7 linked regions of the Homo sapiens genome follow. The protein of the gene in region 1 purifies or fractionates together with the protein of each later gene. This does not show direct contact. Each region holds a gene or a part of one and is shown in the gene's direction. Other genes may lie near its edges. The genes, in order: CAT, TYSND1, MYO1B, AGPS, ARMC9, POTEJ and NUDT19.

Region 1 (3,500 bases):
TGAGCCTTTTTCCAAAGTGGTTGTACCATTTTATACTTCATCAGCAGTGTATGGGAGTTCCAGTTGCTCCACATCCTACCAACTTTTGGTGTTGTCAGTCTTTTACATTTAGTTGTTGGGTGTGCAGTGGTATCTCATTATGGTTTTAATTTGCTTTGCTCTGATGACTAATGATGCAAAGCATCTTTTTACATGCTTATTGACCATTGGTATATATTCCTTTGAAGTATATGTTCAAATTTTCTGTCTTTTTAAAAATTGAATTGCTTTTAAATTATTAATTCATAGCCCATATTTTAAGTTCAATCATGTGGAATCATGTGTAGGCTAAGTGTTATAATAATAAATCTCAACATGTATCATGGTATAAACATATTAGAAATTTATGGCCGGGTGCAGTGACTCACACCTATAATCCAGCACTTTGGGAGGCTGAGGTGGGCGGATCACCTGAGGTCAGGAGTTCAAAACTAGCCTGACCAATATGGAGAAACCCTGTCTCTACTAAAAATACAAAATTAGCTGGGCGTGGTGGCACATGCCTGTAATCCCAGCTGCTTGGGAGGCTGAGGCAGGATAATCACTTGAACCCTGGAGGCGGAGGTTGCAGTAAGCCGAGATCCTGCCATTGCACTCCAGCCTGGGCAACAAGAGTGAAACTCCATCTCAAAAAGAAAAAAAAAGAAATGTATTCCTTTCCTACATGAATGGCCCAAAGTGGTTTGAGGTTGAAGGAGGTGGGTGGGTGCTCTGCTTCCCACAGTTATTGAGGGCACCAGGCTGAAGGAAGCTCCCCCTTGGTCAAACATGGCTTTTATGGGCGTCACTGTCCAGCACAGAAGGCTCAAGAGCGTGGAGAAGGGTATATGAGTGTGGGAAGGTTTAGGGTCCAGGGTCACTGCCACTTACATTCTGTTGGCTAGAACTCTGTTACAGGCCACACCTGGGGTAGTCTACCCCCTGTCCAGGAAGCTGACTCTACTATATTATCCAAAGCGTACATTTCATATTTGGTGAAAATCTGTCCAGCCATTTTCTTGTGATGCGGCAATGGACATGCAACATAATTTCTTTTTAAAGAATATGTCATTTTTACTTTCTGACATTAAGATATTCTGTTAGAAAATTATGACAGTAACAGATGGTATTAAAAAAAAATCTCCCCTTGCTTGGTAAATGCTTTTATCTAAGTGGGCAGCTTTGTGCTAATATGATGTCTTCCACTTCCCAATTAGTTGTGATGCTTTACTGATCTAGGAGAGCTTTATGGTTTGGGACTACTATAGGCGAACACTCTGTTGCCTCCTCTCTCAAGAATCAGAGTGTCCTATTTTGGAAACACAGTCAACCATGTGAAAGCAATTTATTGGGCGTATCTTCTGTGGTCAGATTTGGTTTGCTGACAGGTGAATTGGGAGTTTTGTAAACTTTAATAAGTGAGCATTGAGTCAGATGTGTTCATGAGTATGACCTCGATCCACTTAAAAATTCTTATTTCTTTTTCTCTCTTGGCAGGAGGGAGGTGGTTGTGCAGGTATTCCCAGCCACTTTGAAGGGAACTTAAATGGGAACTTTATTGCTCACTGCTTAGAATGCCATGGGCTCTTCTTTTGAGATACTTACCTTTAACCCATTTCCTTTTTTTTTTTTTAAGTGCAGCTTGCTGCCAGTGCTCTTTTCTTGGGGGTAAATGGGAAATGTTAATAAGTAGCCTCTGATCCCTTTAAAATGGGAGAATTTGAACATTTCAAACCTTACCTTTTTATACAGTTCTCTTATTACCTGGGAGAGAGGTTAAGTCTTAGACTATCCATTTCTGTCAGTGAGTTGCCTATGCATTATAGCCTGTGAGGGTCTATATTTTTTTAGGGTAATCCTGGTAATAACTGCATTGATGTTACACTGCTAACATTTGGGATGGAGAAGGGGTGACTGAGTGACTTAACCCTTGGTCCACATGTGCTTTCATTTCTCCTGAAATATACCTAGGTATGGAATCGCTAAGTCATTATGTGCAGTGGGAGAGACTATGGGAGATGGGACAGAAATTTTTAAGGTTTCATTTCTTTTTTTTAGCTTTTGCATGGTGGGTAGGTCTATGCAAACCTACCCCCAAAGTCTGAGGAAGCTGAGAGGCCAAAGAAAGAGGCTGACAAATCAAGTTTCTCAGAAAGAAATGTTTAGTAGGGACTTAGGACCAGAAACCATGTCTGTGTCTTGCGTGTTGGCGAGACAAGATGGTGGATCCCATACCATTACCCCTCAGACCCAGGGCTTAATACCATAGGGAAGGGCGATTCAGAAGGGAGGTATGGCATGACTGAAGTATGATAATGTCAAGGTTGTTTGACCTCAGGGCAGGATTTATAGTAAATAGGGGCTCTTTCACAAGGAATAATAGATAAACTGGAAATCTTAAAACTGGAGTTAATCAGAAGTCAGCATGGTGGATCAGTATCTAAGACGGAATTGCTTTAGCTTCCACAGCAGTCAATATCTAGACCACCCTTATTATTTTCCCACAGACCAAGAAATTTGAAGGTCAGGACAGTCTTTGGTTTCCTGTACGTGGGTGTATACGTTGTAGGCACTTGAATCTTTGTTGAATAAATGGAGAATGTTAGGCAGTTATTTGCTAGAAAACGCTAGGCACATTCTTTATCACAGAATGAAAAGACGTCATTATGACTCCTCTGGGACTGATGGGCAATTTGCATTAACCAATCTTTTAATTAAAAGTGGAAGAATATGTTTAGGTTCTTGAAACTTCTGTGAGTGAAGGGAACTACTAAGTGGAAAGTGTAATATGTTGATAAAATATTTCACCAGATGAAGCCAACCTTACTCCTCCCAGGAAAACTTCTTCATTTATGTATTAGCTCTGGCCAAAAGAAGCCTATAAAGGCAGCAAAGTCAAAATAGAATTTTACTTTAAGTCCCTACTTCTAATAATTGTGCTAGTTTTTAGCCAAGCTAATTTCTGTGGCAGTTTTCATAACAAGTGTGTCTAAAGGTGTTTGATCAGAATTTATAAATTAAAATATTTCTCTCATTTTTTGGAGGGGCGATGCAGGGAGAGGGATAGACTGTTGCTGCTTCCTCCTGCTTGTTAGAAAGGCTCTTGGCCATATCATATTGGTCCGTGGTTTAGTTTATTTGCATGCTGAATCCACACACATTTGTTTTATGTTTGTTAGTATATTGAGCAGTGTATTAGGGATCAGGTATATAGATGTAAAAGGAGTACACAGTCTAGAGAGGAAAAATAGTGACAGGCTGGGCGCGGTGGCTCACGCCTATAATCCCAGCACTTTGGGAGGCCAAGATGGGCGGATTTCTTGAGGTCAGGAGTTTGAGATCATCAGCCTGGCCAACATGATGGAACCCTGTCTTTACTAAAAATACAAAAATTAGCTGGGTGTGGTGGTGGTCGCCTGTAATCCCAACTACTTGGGAGGCTGAGACGGGAGAATTGCTTGAACCCGGGAGGAGGTGGAGGT
Region 2 (3,110 bases), on another chromosome or scaffold:
TGGTGGGGCACATGGAGTGCCCTGGGAAGGATAATGCTGCACGCCCTTTCCCCGAGTGCCTGCAGCAATGTAGTGTGAGGATGCTGGGCCTTTGGGGTTCCTTAACACTTCAGGCTGGTCAGAGAGGCATGTGGCACTTTCAAGGCTCCAGGGGCACGATTTGGGTAAAAGGCTTTGTGATGCTGCCACATAAGTACTGATGTTGCACTCCATGGAGGCAGTGTGATACAGTGATGAAGGGTCCAGGGGCTCTGGATGGGCATCTTTCCTATGCCACCTATTAGTCCCATGTCCTTGGACAGGCTAGTTAACTATCCTCTGCCTCATTTTCCACGTCTTTGAAATGGGGCTAATGCATCCTATTTCTGGGTGTTGTGAGGGCTGGGTGTGACGTTGCCTGTAAAGCACTTACCCCCATACCCTGCACTTGGAAAAGGAAGGTCATGGCTGCATTATAGCCATCATCACCATTTCTTTTCACGAAGAGACTTCTTAGGAGTTCCAGGAGGAGATGGGTGTGAATTCCACAAACATTTATTGAGCATGTAGGTAGGTGTTAGGAACTCCTAAAAGTCACTGCCCCGCCTGTCCAGGGAACAAGGACTAGGGAACAGCCTGTTGCTCAGAAGTGGTCATGCAGATACAGTGCTAGGAGCTCAGTGGAGTTCTCAGCCTCTTCCAGCCAGGGGACATGGGGAAGGCTCTCTGGAGGCAGGAGTATCTGAGCAGAAACTTGAAGGGTGGAGAGGTTTGGAATGTTTGGAGAGGGTAGGGATGGGAGTTAGGGAGTGTGAGTCCTGCTGTAACACAGGTGTCCCCAGCTTCACCCTCCTTCCTTCCCTGGCAGGCGAGGCTGTGAGTGTGGTGGGCTTTGGCGTCTTTGGCCAGTCTTGCGGGCCCTCGGTGACCTCAGGCATCCTTTCGGCTGTGGTGCAGGTGAATGGCACGCCCGTAATGCTGCAGACCACGTGTGCTGTGCACAGCGGCTCCAGTGGGGGACCCCTCTTCTCCAACCACTCAGGAAACCTCCTTGGTAACCAGCTCTTTGGCCCCCTCCCGCCCTCCCACTTGCCAGAACCTCAGTCCCACCCCATGAGTGCTTGTGGCCAGCCCCAGTGCACCCTCTGTCTGGGAAAATGGTGGGCATTATGAGTGAGCTAGCGAAGGTTTGCAGGCTGTTCTCCTGATGGTGGAGAGGGACGGATGCTGGACTGGGAGGAAAGAGATCTGGGCTCTGGTCCCTTCTCTGCTACTAATCTAATCTGGTTTGATCTGTGAAATTGAGGAGTTGGATTAGTCAAAGCGTCACAGACTCAAAAGCCAACAGAGGCTGGAAAGATAAAGCAAATGAATGAGAAGACAACAGGGAGGGGAGGGGAGGGGTCTAAACTGAAGCGCACTCGACTCAGCTGCTGCAGACTGTGGCCATGAAGGAGGATGGGCCTAACGTTGGCTGGTATTCTAATATTTTCACAAGACATGTAAAGCTTTTTTAAAAAAATACATGTGGCCGTTAAATCGATCAATTTTTAAATTTTGGTAACATTCAGGTTTTTAAAAAACAGTCTGTTTAGCTGTCAAAAAGAAAAAAACATGAGTTCATCTAGAAACCTCCAACTCCAGTCCAGTCTAACTCTCCTTGTTTCTTCTTTCTCCTGTAGTGAAAAACCTTGCTCTTGTTGTCTACAATATGTTTACTTATCTGTTCCATCCTAGTATACAAGTAAAATTGTATTTGCATAACTTTAGTATATTTCCTCTAAATATTTAGTACTTACAAAGAGGAAATATTGGAGCCGTAAGTAATATTTAGAGCCATAAGTCTAGGCCTGGTGTGGTAGCTCGTGCCAGTAATCCCAACACTTCCGGAGGCTGAGGCAAGAGGATCACTTGAAATGGGAGTTCGAGACCAGCCTGGGCAACATAGTGAGACTCTGCCTCTATTTTTATTTAAAAAAATTTTTTTTAATTAAAAAAAAAGAAAGGAAAATACTAAGTCTACCTTGGAGAGGCCTGGCAGATACCACCTCAGCCAAGTGATCAAGGTGAACGTCAGAAGTACTCCATACAGACATCAGATAGCTGAGACACTGGGAAGGACACATGGCTTTTATGGTATTCTTCCCAATAATGTGTAACCTTAAACAATTAAAAGTAATGGCAAAACAATTAAAAGTAATGACAAAAACCGCATTCATTTTTGCACCAACCCAATAGTCATGAGAAAACATTAGGTAGGCCTCAATTGAGGGTCATTCTCTAAAATCACTGACCTGAGCCAGACATGGTGGTATGTGCCTGTAGTCCTGGCTCTGCAGGAATCTGAAGTGGGAAGATCACTTGAGCCCAGGAGTTCAAGGCTGCAGTGAACTATGGTCACCATTACACTTTAGCCTGTGTGACAGAGCGAGACCCATCTCAAAAAAATAAACAGTGTTTATTTAAAAAAAAAAAAAAAAAAGCCAGGTATGGTGGCTCGCACTTGTAATTCTAGCACTTTTGGAGGCCAGGGCGGGAGGATTGCTTGAGTCTGGGAGTTCAAGACCAAGCTGGACAACCATAGTGAGGCCCCATCTCTACAAAATATTTTAGGGAGGCTGAGGCGGGAGAATCACTTGAGCCCAGGAGGTTGAGGTTGCAGTGAGCTATAATCCCACCACTGCACTCTAGCATGGGTGACAGAGCGAGACCTTGCCTCTAAAAAAACAAAAACAAGAACAAAAAAAAAAACTGTAAATAAATAAAATAACCTGCACTTTTAAAAATGTCAAGGCCACGAAAGATAAGGAAAGACTGAGGAACTGACCCAGATTGGAGGAGATTTGGGAGATGCGACAACTAAATGGAATATGGAGTCCTAGACTGGATATTGGAACTGAAAAAGGACATTAGTGGAAAAACTAGTGCAACTCATGTCAATGAGTTCTGTAGTTCACTTAATAACAGTATTCTACCAAGGTATATGTTTTGGTTTTGATAAATATTTTTTGGTGACATTAGATACGAACATAAAGGAAAGCTGGTCAAAGGGTATATAGAATTCTGCAATATTTAGGCAAGACTTCTGTATGTCTGAAATTATCTTTAAAAAACTACACACACATCCATGC
Region 3 (3,500 bases), on another chromosome or scaffold:
GAGCACAGGGCTGCATTTTCTTTCCATTCCAGGTTCCAGCTGCTCTCAAGTAGTTCAGTTTTTTGTTCATTTGTTTCTCTCTTTGTCTAAAGGAATACTGTAGGACAGAGAAATCATAAAATTTGGACACCTTCAGGCAACATAGTTAAATCCTGCAAATTGAAGAGTTTACTTTATCAGATGTACAGAACAGATAATCAGATAATACATGTGAACACACACACTTTGATGGGTGGGAAAAAAGGCTTTTTCCTGTCCCTAAAGATAGTAACACATTCTCTATCTAAATTACAGGGAAGCTGGAAATCTGTTTTATACTGCCTTTTATTTTAGCTCTCTTATTTTGTATAAGAGGACATGGCATGTAATTTAGATGTTGCCCAGCATGGAACACGTGGGGCACTTGTATAGATGTTGACCTTACTTCGATAACCTAGTCAGTTGATATGTGGAATGTTAAATATATGCAGTTATCAGATGTAATAAAATCATGAGATGGAAGGGCATGTATTTAGTAAATGAATGCTCAGTACACACATCCTCCAGGAAACTTTCCTGCCCAGCACGGTGGGCTTGTTTTTTTGTTAGAATCATCTATGTATAGAGTGACATTATTGCTGATTAGCTTGATAAGTGGTACCATACAACATAAGGAACTAGATTCTGAGTTCTGTTCTCTAACAGCAAATTTGGCGAGGTTCATGAACCTCTTAATGGCTTGTCTCCTTTCTTGAGTCTAACCCAGAAACTGTTTTCAGAAATAATGACAGGGAGCTCCCATTGCTGGGGATCTGCACCACCTCTGCCCTCCCCTGGCTTTGCAATCTCACCCATCCCTCCATTGGATTGGAGGTGGGAGATGAGGGCTGTTTATTCCTGAAGGGAGCCTTTCCATGGAAAGGGTCAGCAGCAATGCTCACACTTCTTCATGCAATTATTTCAGTAGCACTTGACCACACCTGTAACTGAATTTCTAGGAATGCTCATCTAAAAAACCTGGCCCTGCTCCTCTGGCCACTGTCTCCTCTCATTGCAGCTTCAGGGATGGAGTGAAAGGGGATATCTCAGGTCCCTCATCCCTATTGTAAAATGGTAGTGGGGGGATTTGGAGCAGTGGTTTTCAAACTGTCATAGCATATTTGTGGTCATGAAATCAATTTAGTGGATTACTACCAGCGTTTTTCAATAAAATGCAATAGAATAGAAAATAGCAGAGTGTACAATATATAGAAAGGATTGAGTATTGTTTTGTGACGCTTTTGTGTCAGTTTTCTCTGTATGTGTGTGGAAATGTGCTTAGTGGATTGTGATGCACAATATTTTTACTGTGAGTCTCTCTAGAAGAGTGACAGCCTCAGGACTAGAGGATTTCCAAGGATTGACATAGTGGGAGGAAATAGTACTTGCAAGGCCCGTGCCCACTAGGCCCTGGTGTGTTTTGAAGAAGCATTCCAGGTTCTGCAATACAAATAATACTCTGACGTTTTCCAAGACAAACTTTTTAAAACCCACAAGGGAAAAATGTTTTTGGCCTTTTTTAGTGAATGTTTTGTACTTTCTCCCTTATTCTTGTTGCTGATAAATTGTCTTAGCATATTTAAGAATGAGTAATAATTTATTTATATAAATGATGTTTTGTTTCTTTCTTCTCATATCTCACAGTGTAAAAAATACAGGGACCAATTCACAGACCAGCAGAAACTTATTTATGAAGAGAAACTAGAAGCCAGTGAACTCTTCAAAGACAAGAAGGCTTTATACCCATCTAGGTATTATGGCTTTGCTTTACCCATAAAATTCAGGATTATAAAAGTTTCTCAAGTATATTTGTACGCCGTTTTGCCTGGTGTTTGATTTCAGTCTTAGATGAGTGATTTTTAGTTCTGTGAATCATTTTATAATCAGCTTGATGTAAACACATTTATTTGAGCTATGGCTTCTATAGTGCAGTTTAATGAAATGAGGTTACGATTGTTGGTTTCACTCCATTAGCATTAGCTCAAACACTTTACTAAATAATTAGAAGTCATTTAACATAAAAATTATATAGGCTGTTAAGATACGTTTGCATTGTAAATTCCTGTTCCTTTTCCGTAGTTTTCAAAGACTAGCCAAATTTCTGTTGGCAATATACTTTAATCACCATTCCAGTCTTCCTGCCATAGCAAGCAAGGTCAGAAACTTATTTGTAAGGTAAATGAAAGAGCGAGCCAGGACAGTACTTTTTGAGTGTTGCTTGAGCACTGGTCTGTGGTGCCCTTTGGTCTGCTAACTCAACGGATATGACTTCTGTGGCCTGTACAGCACGTTCAGTTCCTTTATTTTAGACACCGTGGACTCAGAAAAAGAAGGAACACCAATCCCAAGTTCAGCAAGTGAAGTCCTTGGTAAAGACTGTTTATCCCAATAGTCTTACATCTCCTGCATTCATCACTTCCTCCCAGCAATCTAATCCCATTTTCATCTGGTGTTTATAAAAAAGTAGATTGTACAATTTCAAGCCAAATCTGTAACAACTTTAAGCTTCTTCCAATGAATGGCCAAAGAAAGAATGTATTATATGCTGAGTATATTCACATTTATTACGTAAATTATGTTTATATTCTCTGTGACTTTATACACATTTAAAATATCTTCCTTTTAAAGGATTAAAGGAATATACATTGCCAGACTCACTGGGTTTAAATATTTTAAATTGTACAACTTCATTGGTTAGCTGATGTGGCTACTTGAGGTGATACATACTCCCTTAAGTCAAACACAGTGTCTAAATCCAAAGTTGTCCAAAGTGCCTGTTATATAAAGCATATTCAAACAGGAGAATTTGTCTGTATGCTTGCTTCAGCAACTAATTTTATTCAGCTTTTTTTTTATACATTTTTAAATTAGGGAATAACCTTCTTAATGAACATTTCCTGTGGATGACTCTTCAGAAACTACAGGCTGGAAAATACATCTTTGAGGAAACAATTTAAAAGCCTGTTAGCATTTTTATAATTTAAAACACAGTTGAATAGGAACCAAAAAAAGTTAACTTCAAGCCAAGTCCTTTTTGGGTAGTCTTATCAGTTTTCAGGGATAGTGGCACACTCACCCCACAGCAGTGAGAGAGGTGGAATAATTTAGCCTCCCACCACCCTGCAAAGTGGCAGCTCTTATGGGAGTTGGCCTTTTATATCCTGAGAGCTGTGAAACGCTGACCACCTACGTGGATTTTTCTTCCCTTATCCTCCACCCACAACATAAGCATTTAAATTTGTATTTGCAAATTGCCAGAACTTTGTAGCTCAAAATGAAGCTTATAGATTCCTTGAAGCAGCAGTTTTTCCTTGGTGCCTTTGATGAACCTGTCCTGAAAGAGTCCCCCGACAAGTCTTTAGGGAAATTGATATCTTAGTGATAAGTGTACAGTTAACCTTTTACAAAAATTAGTTTGTTTGGGAAAAAAAAAATTGCCCTGATTCTGAATGTTTGCTTTGGTTACTTCTGTCCATTTAGAG
Region 4 (3,961 bases), on another chromosome or scaffold:
TCTCTGTTGCATATTCTTTTAAAAAATTTCTTGTTTTCTTTTAACAACCCTTCTCAAATACAAAAACCATTAGCATGAGGGCTGTGTAAAAACAGGCCACAGACTAGAGCTGGCCCTCCAACAGCAATTTGCTTAGCCCTTAATTGAGAGTTTTTAACCAGTCTGGGCCTCTTTGGAAGTTCACTCTAAAGGCATAATCTCAATTTTAGAAGCTGGCAACACCCAAGAGAGCAATTGTTAGTCTCTAGTCCCATGGATGTGGTGTTCTTCAGATTCCTCTGCCAATATTTTTCTTGTTAGGAAAGCATGATGTGAAAGTGGTGACAGGATGGAGAATGACAATGGCCAGTGTATGTGAGTTTTTGTCTAAGCTAATTCTTATGCAAGACACCGGCTGAAACAGGTGAGGAGCACTTTTCACGTGCTATCTTCCAGAAATGAATTCAATCTGTAAATAACTGAGATGTCTTCACAGCTCTTGGGTAATTTTTGTCTGTAGCAATAAGAAACTTTATCTCTATTAAAGTTAGGAAGGGGTTAGGATCCAGTAATGAATGAAATGAGAACTTAAGTTGCAACTCAGTTTCTGTACTTACTTGTGATCTAGCATTAAACACAGTGCCAGGCACGAAATAGGTGGTGAGAAATAAGAAAATGATAGAGCTATTTGCTCTAATGGTTAGAGGCAATGATGGTCAGCTTTGAGTTACTTTGGTGACCCCGCAGGGAGGAAGAGCACAGGTGGAACATTAGAATCTCTTTCAGGAAAAGGATGCCGCTGGATCCATCAGGTCCAGTAGCACTGCCCATTTCTCCTGCTCCAAGGCATCTGCCCTCGAAAGCCCCCAGGCCACACCCGAGGACACCACCCAGGGTTCTAGGACACCTCGAGGGCGGACGTGGTTTGGCTCTCGGTCCAGCTGGACCGGGCTGGGCCAACCGGGAGTCAGCTCGAACTCACCTGCTTGGCAGGTGCGCGCTTCCCGAGGCGTGACAAGGGAGCGCCGGCGCGGTGGGTGGGGGGCAGAGAATGTGAAGCTCCAGACGCATGGCACCCGCCGCCAAGTCGCCGCGGTGGCTGCCGGGATGCGCCGCAGCGAATGGTCGCGCCGGGCGCCGCTCTGAGTGACCTTTCACCCGCGCCCAGCGGTTCCGGGCGGCAGCACAAGGCGGTAGCCATGGCGGAGGCGGCGGCTGCAGCGGGTGGGACTGGCTTGGGCGCGGGCGCGAGCTACGGGTCTGCAGCGGACCGGGACCGGGACCCGGACCCGGACCGCGCCGGGCGGAGGCTGCGGGTTCTCTCTGGCCATCTGCTGGGCCGGCCCCGGGAGGCTCTGAGTACCAATGAGTGCAAAGCGCGGAGAGCCGCGTCGGCGGCCACGGCAGCGCCCACGGCCACTCCCGCCGCGCAGGAGTCGGGCACCATCCCAAAGAAGCGGTGAGTAGCGGTATGTGGAAGGAGTTAGCGTCGAGGGACCAGGCCGGGCCTGTGCTGCAGGAGGGCACAGGCGAGGTGGGAAGGGAAGTGACACGGGTGGGCGGAAGGCATCCCGGTCCCTGAAAGTAGGGACCCACCTCTCTTTCGAGAGAGTGGACTAGACCCTGGATTCTGTCAGGAAGGGGGCGGGATGGGATGGTGGATTTTGGTCACTATGTGAGGGTAACAGGCTTGAAGAACTCTCGTTGGAGAAGGGTTTAAAGGATTCCTTTTTCCTGAGCTTTTAGTGCCAGGAATTCATTTTTTATCTTGAATTAATACTTTTGGTGCTGAGGTCTTGGAATGGGTAGCAGAGGTTCTATTTTTCTCCGAGGAGATATAAATTTGTACTAGATGATAGATCATAGGAATCTCTCTCATTCGCGAAAGCCTGCTGTGGGGGAAACTGGTGGTGCCCTGGAAAAAGGTGCTGACTGGTTTCTGTGGGGTAAGTTCCACTTGCTTAGGATCAAGATGTATTGACTTTGAGGGAGGAAACCGATGAATGGTAAGAAGCCATAAACTGCAAACACTAGCTAGTGGTTTAAGGTGTGGTGGTATAGCTACTGAGCTCTGTGTAACCAGAAGCTAAAAGACAAGAGTCTAACCGATGAGGGATGTTTGTAAGAGATCTTGACTTTCGATGTTTTTGGAGAAATCTTTTTTTTTTTTTTTGTATTTTTAGTAGAGACAGGGTTTCACCGTGTTAGCCAGGATGGTCTCGATCTCCTCAATCTCTGATGAAGGCTATTAGGAGAAGCTACTTTCTGACGTGTGGCTTTGTCACCGTGGATAAATGGATAAACCGAGAGTGAAAAAAATAAGTAGCTAATGTTTAAAGTGTACTTTTAAGTGTGCCAAAGTGTGCTAAATCCTTTGTTTCTTCCCAAGCTATGAGGTATGTGCGGTTTTCTCCCATTTTACAGATGAATAAATTAAGTCTGCTGGAGTCTTAGCAGATATGCTGTGTGACAGGTTAGAATTTGAAAGCACATCAAATTGACTTCATGGCCAAGTTCCTAAGCTATACTTGCTTCTGATGAATTAATTCAACATACATGAGTCTTTACAAAATACACACTGTACCAGCAATACAGAAATTTAAAAATACGGTATTTACTCTTAAGGAAGGAATAGCTTAGTAGGTAAAATTATAATACAGCGTTATAAGAAACTTAACTGGGAACTATACCACCTGGTCATTTAACCCAGTTTTGGGTTTGTGTTTGTTAGTGCAAAGATGTTCCAAAGTAAAGATTGTCTGAGTAAATTTTGGATGTTTGCATTACTAATAGTTTGCCAAAGGGGGAAATTGTTCTTGGCATACAAACAGTATGTTCACAGGTAAAGAAGTGAGAGACAAATTAGGGAACTGCTGAGACTCAAGTGTAGTAGGAGAGGGTGAGAATGACAGGGGACGAAGACTGGAGAGGTGAATCTTGTTTACAGGATTTTACGTGGGGCAATACATGATTAGATTTACCTTTGATAAAGGTCACACTGGGAGCAAATTGAAGACAGTTGAGCATTTTGGCAGTATAATGGCTGGGAACATAGACCTGGATTTCAATTTCCACTACACCGTTACAGCTCTATGATCTTGGGCAAATCACTTAACCTCTGAGAGTTTCAGTCACCGTCATTTGTAAAAACGGGAACAGTAATCCTGTTTTGCAGTGTTGCTGTGAGAATTGAAAAAAATAGAGTTAAATGATCAAGTGTTTAGTGCAATGCCTGTTACATAACCTTTCAAAGAATGGTAGCTGCAATTTTCACAGTGTCTAAAGGCAGAGAGACTAGGAGACTATTATTCCAGGGAGAAATGCTGGGATTCTGAACTAAGGCATATTATTGGGAGTAGGCAACTTAATTGAGAAAATGCTAGGAGGTAAATTTTCCATAACTTGGTTACTGAGTGGTGGGGAGGGGAGGAATAAAGGATTTCATCTCGTCTCCTGGCTTCAATTGAGGTTATATTATTAATAGCTGTCATTAGGTTTAAAATTTTCTAAATGGTTTCATGTACATTTATGTGTTCTCATTTGTATGCATATATGTGATTGTACATTTTATGTAGATTCACACTCTTAGAACCAAGTAAGGAGGGCAGGTTTTCCTTATGGTTAGATTTAATGGCTTGGTTTACAGCATTCAGAGAAAAAATAGTAACGTTTGTAAGGCACACCAAGATGATGGTTGAAGGTGACTGGTCAGGGATGCCCTGTGTGGCTGCTCCAAGGACTGAAGGCATCGATAGTTCAGGCACGACTGTAACCCATTTGTTGCATAGGTTACAGCTGGTGGGAAGCCCTGGTCTTTGGTTCGGGGTTAGACGACTAGTGGTAAAATCTAGTCCTGTACTGGTACTTTGAGATTTTCATCAAAATATGAGGGAACACAGAAACTTGTATTAGATGACACATCAAAAGCTTCCACAGAGGGTGATATACTTGATAGATAATCATGAGGAACCCAAGTCTCCCT
Region 5 (3,500 bases), on another chromosome or scaffold:
GCCAAGGCGGGAGGATTGCATTACCCAGGAGTTTGGCAGCTTAGTAAGACCCTGTCTCCCTGTCTCTACTTAAAAAAAAAAAAAAAAAAATTACCTGGGTATGGTGGCATGCACCTATAGTTCTAGCCACTGGGGAGGCTGAGGAGGGAGGATCCCTTGAACCCAGGAGTTTTAGCTTGCAGTGAGCTATGATTGCACCATTGCACTCCATCCTGGGCAACGGAGTGAGATCCCATCTCAAAAAAAAAATTCGATGAGTTCTGACACATTCTGAATTTTATAGATGAAGAAAGGCTCTGCACTTCAGTGAGTTGTCTCAGATCAGGTGCCAGTGAATGGCATGGTTAACATTAGAGCCCAGACCTTTTCATTCCTCTGGGGTTACGGGCAACTGCTTTGGGCTGAGCCTGGGGTGTGGGCCATGGGGAATGACTGCTTTGGGTACACCTTGAGGGAGGGCTAGTAGAAAGAGTAGGAAGAGTTTCTTTTGACTTTAGCCATTGTATTTCCTAGTGCCGCTGAACAAATGACCATAAACTGAGTGGTGTCAAGCAACAAAGATTTAATATCTTCTAGTTCTGGAGGTCAGAAGTCTGAAATGGCTTTCACTGAGCTGAAGTCAAGGTGTCTGCAGTGCTGGATCATTTCTGGATGCAGTGGGAGGATCTATTCCTTGCCTTATGCAGTTTTTAGAGGCTCCTTACCCTCCTTGTCTTATGCCACTTTATCCCCTTTAAAGCCTGCAGTGGCTGTTGAGTCTTTCTCACATCTCATCATGCTGGCACTGACCCTCTTGCCTCCGTCTGCCCCCCTCCCTCTGCTGTGACTGCCTTGGGCCCACCTGGGTAATCCAGGATCATCCCCCAATTTAAAGGTCAGCTGATGAGCAACCTTAATTCCATCTGCACCTTAATTCCCCCTTGCCGTGTAACCTCACGTATTCACAGGTTCTGGGGATTGGCGCATGGATGTCTTTGGGGGCCATTATTCTGCTCACCACAACCACCTTTTTGTAGTTTCATAGGTGGTTGAAATGAAAGCTGTTGTCTTGTATTTTTGCCTTCTAGAGATTTTTGCTGTGAGAATTAATTACCAGTAACAGTTCAATATGGGGGACATTCTGGCTCATGAATCTGAATTACTTGGACTAGTGAAAGAGGTAGGTATATTATACAAAGCAGAGGTCACAGAGAAACAGATCTTGAAAACTTGTGTTTTAAAATGCAACAAACTATTTAGTGCCTTGTAATGTTTCTTCTATTGTTATGTTGGAGCTATTTTTCTATTATATAATATTCCATGTATTTACATTTTGGTTTTATAACTAAACAAATCTTAAAGCCACTTAAAAAGTCCCTTGAAAGAAAATTATAAAAGCAATACACGTCCACGGTAAAAGATTCAAGCACTACAGAAGTATAAAAAGGAAATTTCCCTCCCAGACTTTTTTCTATGTATAGTAAAAATATATTCACATGCCTGTAGTTTGTTTTACAGAATGGGATGATACATTGTTCTGTAGCTTGCTTTTTATCTGCCAACAATAATATAGCATGAACATCTGCCTATGATCGGCCCTAGACATTTGAATGCCATAGAGTATTTCATTGAGTGGCTGCATCATAATTTTTTTAACTCATTGTCTGGTAATGGCCTAGGTTTCCTACGCTAAAAGCTTTGACAAGTAGGGCCCAGGCCTTAAACTTTCTGGTGCTAAAGAAATGGTTCGCGCTTGCTGCTGCTTAACTGTGTGAGTAACCACCTGCAGGTTGCGAGAGCCACGGGCCTGGAGCAGGGATGAGGCACCCACCGTGCAACTGCAGATTTGGAATTTGGTGGTGTGATGGCGAATATATTCTTTTTTAAAAAATTTACATTTAAAAATCTTTTTAGAGACAAGGTCTTGTTCTGCCGCCTAGGCTGGAGTGCAGTGGCATCATCATGGTTCACTGTAGCCTTGAACTCCTGGGCTCAAGCAATCTGCCTGCCTCAGCCTCCTGGGTAGCTGAGACTACAGACGTGCACCACCATGCTCAGCTAGGTTTTATTCTAATTTTTGTAGAGATAGGATCTCACTCTGTTGTCCAAGCTGGTCTTGAACTCTTGGCTTCAAGCAATCCTCCTGCCTCAGCCTCCCAAAGTTGTGGGATTGCAGGCATGAGCCACTGCACCCTACCTATATAACACATTTTCTTTTAAAAATTTATTTATTTGAGATGGGGTCTCGCTTTGTTGCCCAGGCTGGTCTCAAAGTCCTAGGCTCAAGCGATCCTCCTACCTCAGCCTCCCAAAGTGTTGGGATTACAGGCATGAGCCATGCCACCTGGCCTATACCATTTTTTCTTTTTTTTTTCTTTTTTTTTGAGATGGAGTCTCACTCTGTCGCCCAGGCAGGAGTACAGTGGTGCTTTCTCTGCTCACTGCAACCTCCACCTCCTGGGCTCAAGCGATTCTCCTGCCTCAGCCTCCCGAGTAGCTGGGACTACAGGCACGCGCCACTGCGCCTGGCTAATTTTTGTATTTTCAGTAGAGACGGGGTTTCACCTTGCTGGCCAGGCTGGTCTCGAATTCCTGACCTCGTGATCCACCCGCCTTGGCCTCCCAAAGTGCTGGGATTACAGGCTTGAGTCACGGCTCCTGGCCGGTAGTTCTATTTTTATTTTTTTGAGGAACCTCCATACAGTTTTCTATAATGGCCGTACCAATTTACAGTCTCACCAAGAGTGCACAAGTGTTTCCTTTTCTCCACATCCTTGCCAAGACTTTTTATCTTTCGTCTTTTTTGTAATAGCCATTCTGACAGGTGTGAGGTAATTAGGTCTCTGTGGTTTTGATTTGCATTTCTCTGATTGTTAGTGATGTTAAGCACCTTTTCATGTATCTGTTGGTCTTTTTAATGTCTTCTTTGGATAAATATCTATTCAGATCCTTTGGCTGTTTTTTAATTGGATTATTTGTTTGTTTTGCTGTTGAATTGAATTATTTATTTTTTATAGTATTTAGATTTTGCTGAATTTGAAGACACCTTGAAAACATTTTCAAAAGAATGCAAAATAAAAGGAAAACCATTGTGTAAAACAGTAGGCGGATCTTTCAGAGACTCCAAATCATTGACAATTCAGGTAACATTTTGCTTATTTTTCATCCCTGTAGATAATTCAGGATGCTCCCAACTTGTGGAAAATGCTGCTGTTGGATAGTGCTAGAATAGTTTTTGAGCACTTGCTCAGAGTTACTTTAGATGGCACAAGTGTTTATAGATGAACTAATAATGTCATTTTAAATCTCTGTACCCTCCCCAGGAAATGTGTGGCCATATAAGATCTTTCACAAACATTTCTTGGGAAGAAGGAAAAGAAGAAACCATGCAGTGTTTAGGAACTGAGACAATTGTAGCCTTCCTCCTGAGGAGTTTCAGGTTATTAATTCTAGGCACTGGGGATCCAGCAGTGAACAAACAAAATCCAGCCCCTTGCCAGCACAGCATTTGCATTCTAGCT
Region 6 (4,195 bases), on another chromosome or scaffold:
GGCTGGTCTCGAACTCCCGACCTCAGGTGATCCACCTGCCTCGGTCTCCCAAAGTTCTGGGATTACAGGCATGAGCCACTGCACCCAGCCAGCCTGCAGATTTATTTTAATGAGAAAATCAAAGCAAAAGCAGGGGCATAAGTGGAGCATATGGATGGGACAGAGAACGTTGGAGGCTTTAGCAGAGAGAGGAAAGGGCAGGAAGGAGTCATCCACAGGAGGGGAGAGTACTGTCCTGTGACTGCTCCTCCAAGCCCCCTCTTGCCGGCGTGGACACAGCGGTCTGCACCTTGACCCTATTGCATGCCAGTGGAGCAGAGCCCCCCAGGCCAGAAGCCCTATAGCTGTTGGCCCTGGCTTGGACACCGGGCAGGGGGCACCGGGGCAGGAGCTGGCCGCGATCCTGTGGCCCCAAATGCCCCCTCGCTGATGGCCTCGTGTTCTGGGTGCAGAGCAAAGAGGACCAGGTGTCAAAGGCACCTCAGGCAGGCGCTGGGCTCAGTGGGCATCTTGTGCTCCGGGATTTTGAGGCCATTTGCAGCCAGCTCCTCCAGCCCCAGCTCCGAGCTGCAGACGCTGCCACGCACAACAGCACCGCCAGGAGTGTCCCGGGGGCTTTCTTCAGAGGAGGCTGTCAGCATCCTCAAGTTCCAGCCGCTTAGCCCCAGTCCTGCTTCAAGAGGCTTTTTTTTCACCAGAGGCTTCTCAATGGCCTGAAAGCTCAGCTGACTCCCATGAAGTTTGCCAGGAACATAAGGCTGTCGGTGACATTCGTGGCGCCAAGATTTAAACACGCGGTTGCACGCATTGGCCACTGTCTGTGCCACATGCACTGACGCCACCTGAGATGCACACGCTGCACGCCGCACGCGCACGCCGCACGCGCACGCCGCACGCGCACGCGGCAGCGGCTTGGCTGGCTTGTAATGGCTTGCACGCGCACGCCACACGCGCATAGCGGTTTGGCTGGCCTGTAACGGCTTGCACGCGCACGCCGCACGCGCGTAATGGCTTGGCTGGCCTGTAACGGCTTGCACGCGCATGCTGCACGCGGGTAACTGCTTGGCTGGCCTGTAGCGGCTTGGCTTGGCTTTGCGTTCTTTGCTTGGCTTGGTGTTGGTCGCTTGGCCTGGTGTTCCTCCTTGGATTGACGTTTCCTCCTTGGATTGGCGTTTCCTCTCTCGCGTTCCCTTGCTAGGCTTGACCTTTTCTCTGCTGGGTTTGGCATTCCCTTGGGTGGGCTGGGTGTTTTCTTGGGGGGGGGGGGGTTGGCCCTTCCTCGGGTGGGCGTGGGCTTTCCCCGGGTGGGTGTGGGTTTTCCCTGGGTGGGGTGGGTTGGGCTTACCTGCTGGGGTTGGCAGGTTTTGGCTGGGATTGACTTTTCTCTTCAAACAGATTGGAAACCCGGAGTTACCTGCTAGTTGGTGAAACTGGTTGGTAGACGTGATCTGCTCGCTACTACCGGCCTCCCCAGGCTGTTAAAAGCAGATGGTAGCTGAGGTTGATTCAATGCCGGCTGCCTCTTCTGTGAAGAAGCCATTTGTTCTCAGGAGCAAGATGGGCAAGTGGTGCCGCCACTGCTTCCCCTGCTGCAGGGGGAGCGGCAAGAGCAACGTGGGCACTTCTGGAGACCAGGACGACTCCACTATGAAGACACTCAGGAGCAAGATGGGCAAGTGGTGCTGCCACTGCTTCCCCTGCTGCAGGGGGAGCGGCAAGAGCAACGTGGGTGCTTGGGGAGACTACGACGACAGCGCCTTCGTGGAGCCGAGATACCACGTCCGTCGAGAAGATCTGGACAAGCTCCACAGAGCTGCCTGGTGGGGTAAAGTCGCCAGAAAGGATCTGATCGTCATGCTCAGGGACACTGACGTGAACAAGCAGGACAAGCAAAAGAGGTAACCAGGCCTGGGCTGGGAGGAGGTGGGAGGTCGGGGGATGATGGGGACATACCCTCCTGGCGGGGGAGGAGGGGGACCTGGCTTTCTCACCTCCGCAGGCCTCACACCACCCTGGTTGTGGAAACCTCAGAGAGGTCAGGGCACAGGCCCCTTTATGAACAGCAACACACACAAAAAAAACTTTAGCTGATTTCCAATCAAATTATAATTTCCCTCGTAGAACACTAATAGACTGTTTTAAAGTGATTTAACTTGCAAAATTAATTAAGTCAATGCAGCAGATTATTTTTAATCTACAGATTTTAAAACAATGTTCTATACATTATAGAAAAGTGTATATTGAGAACTAAGAATGAAGCCCCATAACACATCAACTTCAGGGCTAAATATTCTTCAAATAAAATCCAGTATGGATTTTATATCAATGTACCCTATGTAAATACGTTCTTTACTGAGGAACCTTAGAAGGAAACTGAAATGGGAAGATGGTTCCTGTGCTTGAATAGGAAGATTGAATTTTCTTAAGATGTGAGCTTTTTGGCTGGGCGCGGTGGCTCATGCCTGTAATCCCAGCACTTTGGGAGGCGGGCGGATCACGAGGTCAGGAGATCGAGACCATCCTGGCTAACACGGTGAAACCCTGTCTCTACTAAAAATTATAAAAAAAATTAGCCGGGCACGGTGGCAGGTGCCTGTAGTCCCAGCTACTCAGGAGGCTGAGGCAGGAGAATGGCGTGAACTCGGGAGGCGGAGCTTGCAGTGAGCCAAGATAGTGCCACCGCACTCCAGCCTGGGAGACAGAGCGAGATTCCGTCTCAAAAAAAAAAAAAAAAAAAAAAGATGTGAGCTTTTTCTATTTATCACTTTTACATAAGCCAAATAAAAATAGCAAAGTTTTAGCGTTTTTAAATTACACATGCTGTCTTTTATTATTGTGATAAATTAATTTTTTGTAACAGAATGGAAAAAGGCTTGCTTTTCCAGATATCAAAATGTGCATGTGTTATTTATTTCCACAAATTGTTTACTAACAGCTGAAAAGACATCAATGAATAGAACAGAATAGGAAATTTAGAAATACCCAAATATATGTAAGAATTTAGCACTTGATAATGGTGATGTTTTGTATTATTTAAAAAAGATGGATTGTTCATAATTCATTTTTGGAGAAAACTAGCTAGATTTTTATGTCACAAAAATAAGAGTATAGATTAAAAATTTTAAACATACAAAAGGAGAAACATACCAGAAAAAATATAAATGCCTATTTATATACGCAGATATATATACATATATATACATATATATACACATATATACATATATATACATATGTATATATACATATATATACATATGTATATATACATATATATACATATGTATATATACATATATATGTGTGTGTATATATATACATATATATGTGTGTGTGTGTGTATATATATATATATATATATATATACTTTTTTTTTTGGTGGAGTCTCACTCTGTAGCCCAAGCTGGAGTGCAGTGGTGTGATCTCGGCTCACTGCAACCTCTGCCTCCTAGGTTCAAGCAATTCTCTGCTTCAGCCTACTGAGTAGCTGGGATTACAGGCGCCTGCCACCATGCCTGGCTAATTGTTTTGTATTTTTACTAGAGATGGGGTTTCACCATCTTGGCCAGGCAGGTCTTGAACTCCTGTCCTCGTGATCCACCCACTTTGGCCTCCCCAAGTGCTGGGGTTACAGGCGTGAGCCACCGTGCCTGGTGTATATATGCAGACATAATAAAATAAGCTCATTTTAAAATTGGGCAAAGTACTTTTTTTGCATATCTACCAGTGACCTATGCACATAGGAAAATACAGTGTTCCTGGTAGAAGAAGGAATTTAAGTTAGAAGAGGAATGAAATACTGCTTTCTATTTAAGTTAGAAGAGGAATGAAAGGCCGGGTGCAGTGGCTTACGCCTGTTATCCCAGCACTTTAGGAGGCTGAGGCGGTGGATCATGAAGTCAGGAGTTTGAGACCAGCCTGGCCAGTGTGGTGAAATCCCATCTCTACTAAAAATACAAAAAATTAGCTGGGCATGGTGGCACGCACCTGTAATCCCAGCTACTCAGGAGGCTGAAGCAAGAGAATTGCTTGAACCAGGGAGGTGGAGGTTGCAGTGAGCCGAGATCGCGCCACTACATTCCAGCCTGAGTGATAGAGTGAGACTCCATCTCAAAAAAAAAAGAAAAAAAAAAAAAAAAGGAATGAAATACTGTTTTCTATCCACAAAGTTTGTGAGGATGAAGAACAGTGGTAC
Region 7 (2,736 bases), on another chromosome or scaffold:
ATCAAAATAAATACTGATTTAACAACTATCTCAGTTCCAAACATATGAAATAGATAAAAATACTGATTTGTATTTCATTAGTATATTGGAGTGATTTATAAAATAATACTCGATGGAATTAAAATTTTATACTTTCTGCCATGGTGAAAAATAATTTTGTATTTAAAAATAAAATCAGATTTTTTCCTTTTTCAGGTGATGAGCTATATTTAGAAGATTCAGACTTTTTGGAAAATCTTATGTCTACTGAAAAAAAGACTGAGGAAATCATGAAGGAAGGCAAGCAGTTTCACCGGATAGTGACATACCATCGCCACCTTTATGATATCCACGTGACTGTTCAGCCAAAGTATAAACACGTTTATCCTAAGAACTCTGTAGTAAGAAAAAGCCATTTGTAGGGTGCTTAAGCTTGTTTGTAAAATGGCCTACTTGAAGTCCTCATGAATAATGAGGGTTGACTTTCATTTGCTTGAAACTTAAGGAAGTTTGTGCCTATAAAAGTTACTGCAATTCAGTATTTCTTTATTTTTTTCGAGACAGAGTCTCAATCTGTCGCCCAGGCTGGAGTGCAGTGGCATGATATAGGCTCACTGGAAGCTCTGCCTCAGGGGTTCATGCCATTCTCCTGCCTCAGCCTCCCGAGTAGCTGGGACTACAGGCGCCCGCCACCATGCCCAGCTAATTTTTTTTTGTATTTTTAGTAGAGACGGGTTTTCACCGTGTTAGCCAGGATGGTCTCAATCTCTTGACCTCGTGATACGCCCGCCTTGGCCTCCCAAAGTGCTGGGATTACAGGTGTGGGCCACCACACCCAGCCTTTTTTTTTTTTTTTTTTTTTTTTTTTGAGACAGAGTGTCTCACTCTTGCCCAGAACCCAGGCTGGAGTGCAGTGGCCCAATCTCGGCTCACTGCAACCTCCACCTCCCAGGTTCCAGCGATTCTCATGCCTCAGCCTCCTGAGTAGCTGGGACTATAGGCATGCACCACCATGCCCCACTAAATTTTGTATTTTTAGTAGAAACAGAGTTTCACCATGTTGGCCAGGCTGGTCTCGATCTCCTGACCTCATGATCTGCCCGCCTTGGCCTCCCAAAGTGTGGGATTACAGGCGTGAGCCACTGTGCCCAGCATGGTGTTTCTTATATCAGGTGTTTTAGGGAGCTCGCTTGCTTATTCCATTCTTTAATCCTTACAGTGTGCCACACGTATAAAGTTTATAACGTATTAATGATCTCATTACCCAAAACCAGAACATAATTTCACAAGGGTTCCTACTTCTGTATTGTTTTATTATCTCAAAAATTTAAATAACATGTTCTGCTGTTTATTGTTCTTGTTATCCACTGTATTAGCACCTTCCCTGATGTGCTTTGGAGGTTGATCAATGAATTTCTGAGACTTTCTGCTGGAATTACTTTAAGGGTGTCTTATTAGATGATGAAAAGTTGGCTGAGACACCCTTCAAGTGACCATGTCATTGTTTTCTTGCTATGTCTTTAGCTTAATGATTAAGATACAATTCTTTTTAAAATCAAATGGTATTAGTTATTATGTTTCCCAAATTAGAAATCGATTTTAGTTAACATTTTATTTTATTTTATTCTATTTTATTTATTTTTGAGACAGAGTCTCGCTCTGTTGCCCAGGCTGGAGTACAATGGCGCAATCTCAGCTCACTCCAATCTCCGCCTCCCAGGTTCAAGCGATTTTTCTGCCTCAGCCTCCCGAGTAGCTGGGATTACAGGCACCCACTACCATGCCCAGCTAATCTTTGTATTTTTAGTAGAGACGGGGTTTCACCATGTTGGCCAGTCCGGTCTCGAACTTCTGACCTGAGGTGATCTGCCCACCTTGGCCTCACAAAGTGCTGAGATTACAGGCTTGAGCCACCACGCCTGGCCTAGTTAGCATTTTAAAGAAACACAAAGCCATAACAAAAACCATCATTGTTTGTATTCCACACTGTTAATGAATGTAAAGAGGTTAGAAATGTAGTGTTTGATTAATGATGTTTATTTTTACTGTATTTAATATGAGTAATTTTTCATCATCTTTCAAGAGGAATAATGTTTATTGATTAAAGGTGAGAAATGATAGTTAAGACACCAATTCCATGTCCAGATCTTTGACTGTATCATGCATTGTACAATTGATTTCATATTTTATGAAATGCCTTAATTTTCCTACTATAACATAAAGACAATGATGAATAAAGTTTATGTGTATGATTAAATCCAGATTAGAGAACTATATCTAGCACAGCAGTCCTCAGCCTGGGCACTTTTGCCCTAGGGAACATTTGGCTATGTCTGGAAACATTTTTGGTTGTTGAAACTGTGGGCAGAGTGGGTGGGTGGGGGAGTATGCTACTACCATCTAGTAGTAGGGAGAGGCCAGGGATGCAACTGAACAGCCTGCAATGCGCAGTCTCACCCATAGCAAAGAATTACCTGACCAAGGATGAGACACCCAATCTAAAGTAAAATCTTTTTTTTTTTAAATAAATGGTTCCAATATGTAAATTTTGAGAACCACAGATACTATTATTCTGTCTGCCTTTTGAATCTACAAAAATGGGAAATTACGTCCAATTGGAAAAAAAAAAAAAGTTGGCTGGGCTGGGCGCAGTGGCTTATGCCTATAATCCCAGCATTTTGGGAGGCTGAGGTGGGCGGATCACCTGAGGTCAGGAGTTCAAGACCAGGCTGGTTAATGTGGTGAAACCCCATCTAC

Evidence for each region.
Region 2: the proteins of CAT (region 1) and TYSND1 purify together in Homo sapiens (affinity purification with mass spectrometry; one large-scale study listed by BioGRID and IntAct). This does not show direct contact.
Region 3: the proteins of CAT (region 1) and MYO1B purify together in Homo sapiens (affinity purification with mass spectrometry; one large-scale study listed by BioGRID and IntAct). This does not show direct contact.
Region 4: the proteins of CAT (region 1) and AGPS purify together in Homo sapiens (affinity purification with mass spectrometry; one large-scale study listed by BioGRID and IntAct). This does not show direct contact.
Region 5: the proteins of CAT (region 1) and ARMC9 purify together in Homo sapiens (co-immunoprecipitation; one large-scale study listed by IntAct). This does not show direct contact.
Region 6: the proteins of CAT (region 1) and POTEJ purify together in Homo sapiens (affinity purification with mass spectrometry; one large-scale study listed by BioGRID and IntAct). This does not show direct contact.
Region 7: the proteins of CAT (region 1) and NUDT19 purify together in Homo sapiens (affinity purification with mass spectrometry; one large-scale study listed by BioGRID and IntAct). This does not show direct contact.

What each region holds. Positions count from the first base shown.
Region 1 is NC_000011.10:34,441,934-34,445,433, forward strand, and holds part of CAT (catalase), read left to right. Parts: intron 1-3,500. UniProt on the Homo sapiens protein: Catalyzes the degradation of hydrogen peroxide (H(2)O(2)) generated by peroxisomal oxidases to water and oxygen, thereby protecting cells from the toxic effects of hydrogen peroxide.
Region 2 is NC_000010.11:70,140,591-70,143,700, reverse strand, and holds part of TYSND1 (peroxisomal leader peptide-processing protease), read left to right. Parts: intron 1-847; coding exon 848-1,033; intron 1,034-3,110. UniProt on the Homo sapiens protein: Peroxisomal protease that mediates both the removal of the leader peptide from proteins containing a PTS2 target sequence and processes several PTS1-containing proteins.
Region 3 is NC_000002.12:191,409,404-191,412,903, forward strand, and holds part of MYO1B (unconventional myosin-Ib), read left to right. Parts: intron 1-1,662; coding exon 1,663-1,769; intron 1,770-3,500. UniProt on the Homo sapiens protein: Motor protein that may participate in process critical to neuronal development and function such as cell migration, neurite outgrowth and vesicular transport.
Region 4 is NC_000002.12:177,391,612-177,395,572, forward strand, and holds the start of AGPS (alkyldihydroxyacetonephosphate synthase, peroxisomal precursor), read left to right. Parts: upstream 1-1,161; 5' UTR 1,162-1,178; coding exon 1,179-1,438; intron 1,439-1,443; exon of another isoform or gene 1,444-1,513; intron 1,514-3,961. UniProt on the Homo sapiens protein: Catalyzes the exchange of the acyl chain in acyl-dihydroxyacetonephosphate (acyl-DHAP) for a long chain fatty alcohol, yielding the first ether linked intermediate, i.e. alkyl-dihydroxyacetonephosphate (alkyl-DHAP), in the pathway of ether lipid biosynthesis.
Region 5 is NC_000002.12:231,205,131-231,208,630, forward strand, and holds part of ARMC9 (lisH domain-containing protein ARMC9), read left to right. Parts: intron 1-1,067; 5' UTR 1,068-1,108; coding exon 1,109-1,159; intron 1,160-2,996; coding exon 2,997-3,122; intron 3,123-3,500. UniProt on the Homo sapiens protein: Involved in ciliogenesis. It is required for appropriate acetylation and polyglutamylation of ciliary microtubules, and regulation of cilium length. Acts as a positive regulator of hedgehog (Hh)signaling.
Region 6 is NC_000002.12:130,610,045-130,614,239, forward strand, and holds the start of POTEJ (POTE ankyrin domain family member J), read left to right. Parts: upstream 1-1,395; 5' UTR 1,396-1,488; coding exon 1,489-1,898; intron 1,899-4,195.
Region 7 is NC_000019.10:32,711,557-32,714,292, forward strand, and holds the end of NUDT19 (acyl-coenzyme A diphosphatase NUDT19 precursor), read left to right. Parts: intron 1-195; coding exon 196-401; 3' UTR 402-2,236; downstream 2,237-2,736. UniProt on the Homo sapiens protein: Fatty acyl-coenzyme A (CoA) diphosphatase that hydrolyzes fatty acyl-CoA to yield acyl-4'-phosphopantetheine and adenosine 3',5'-bisphosphate.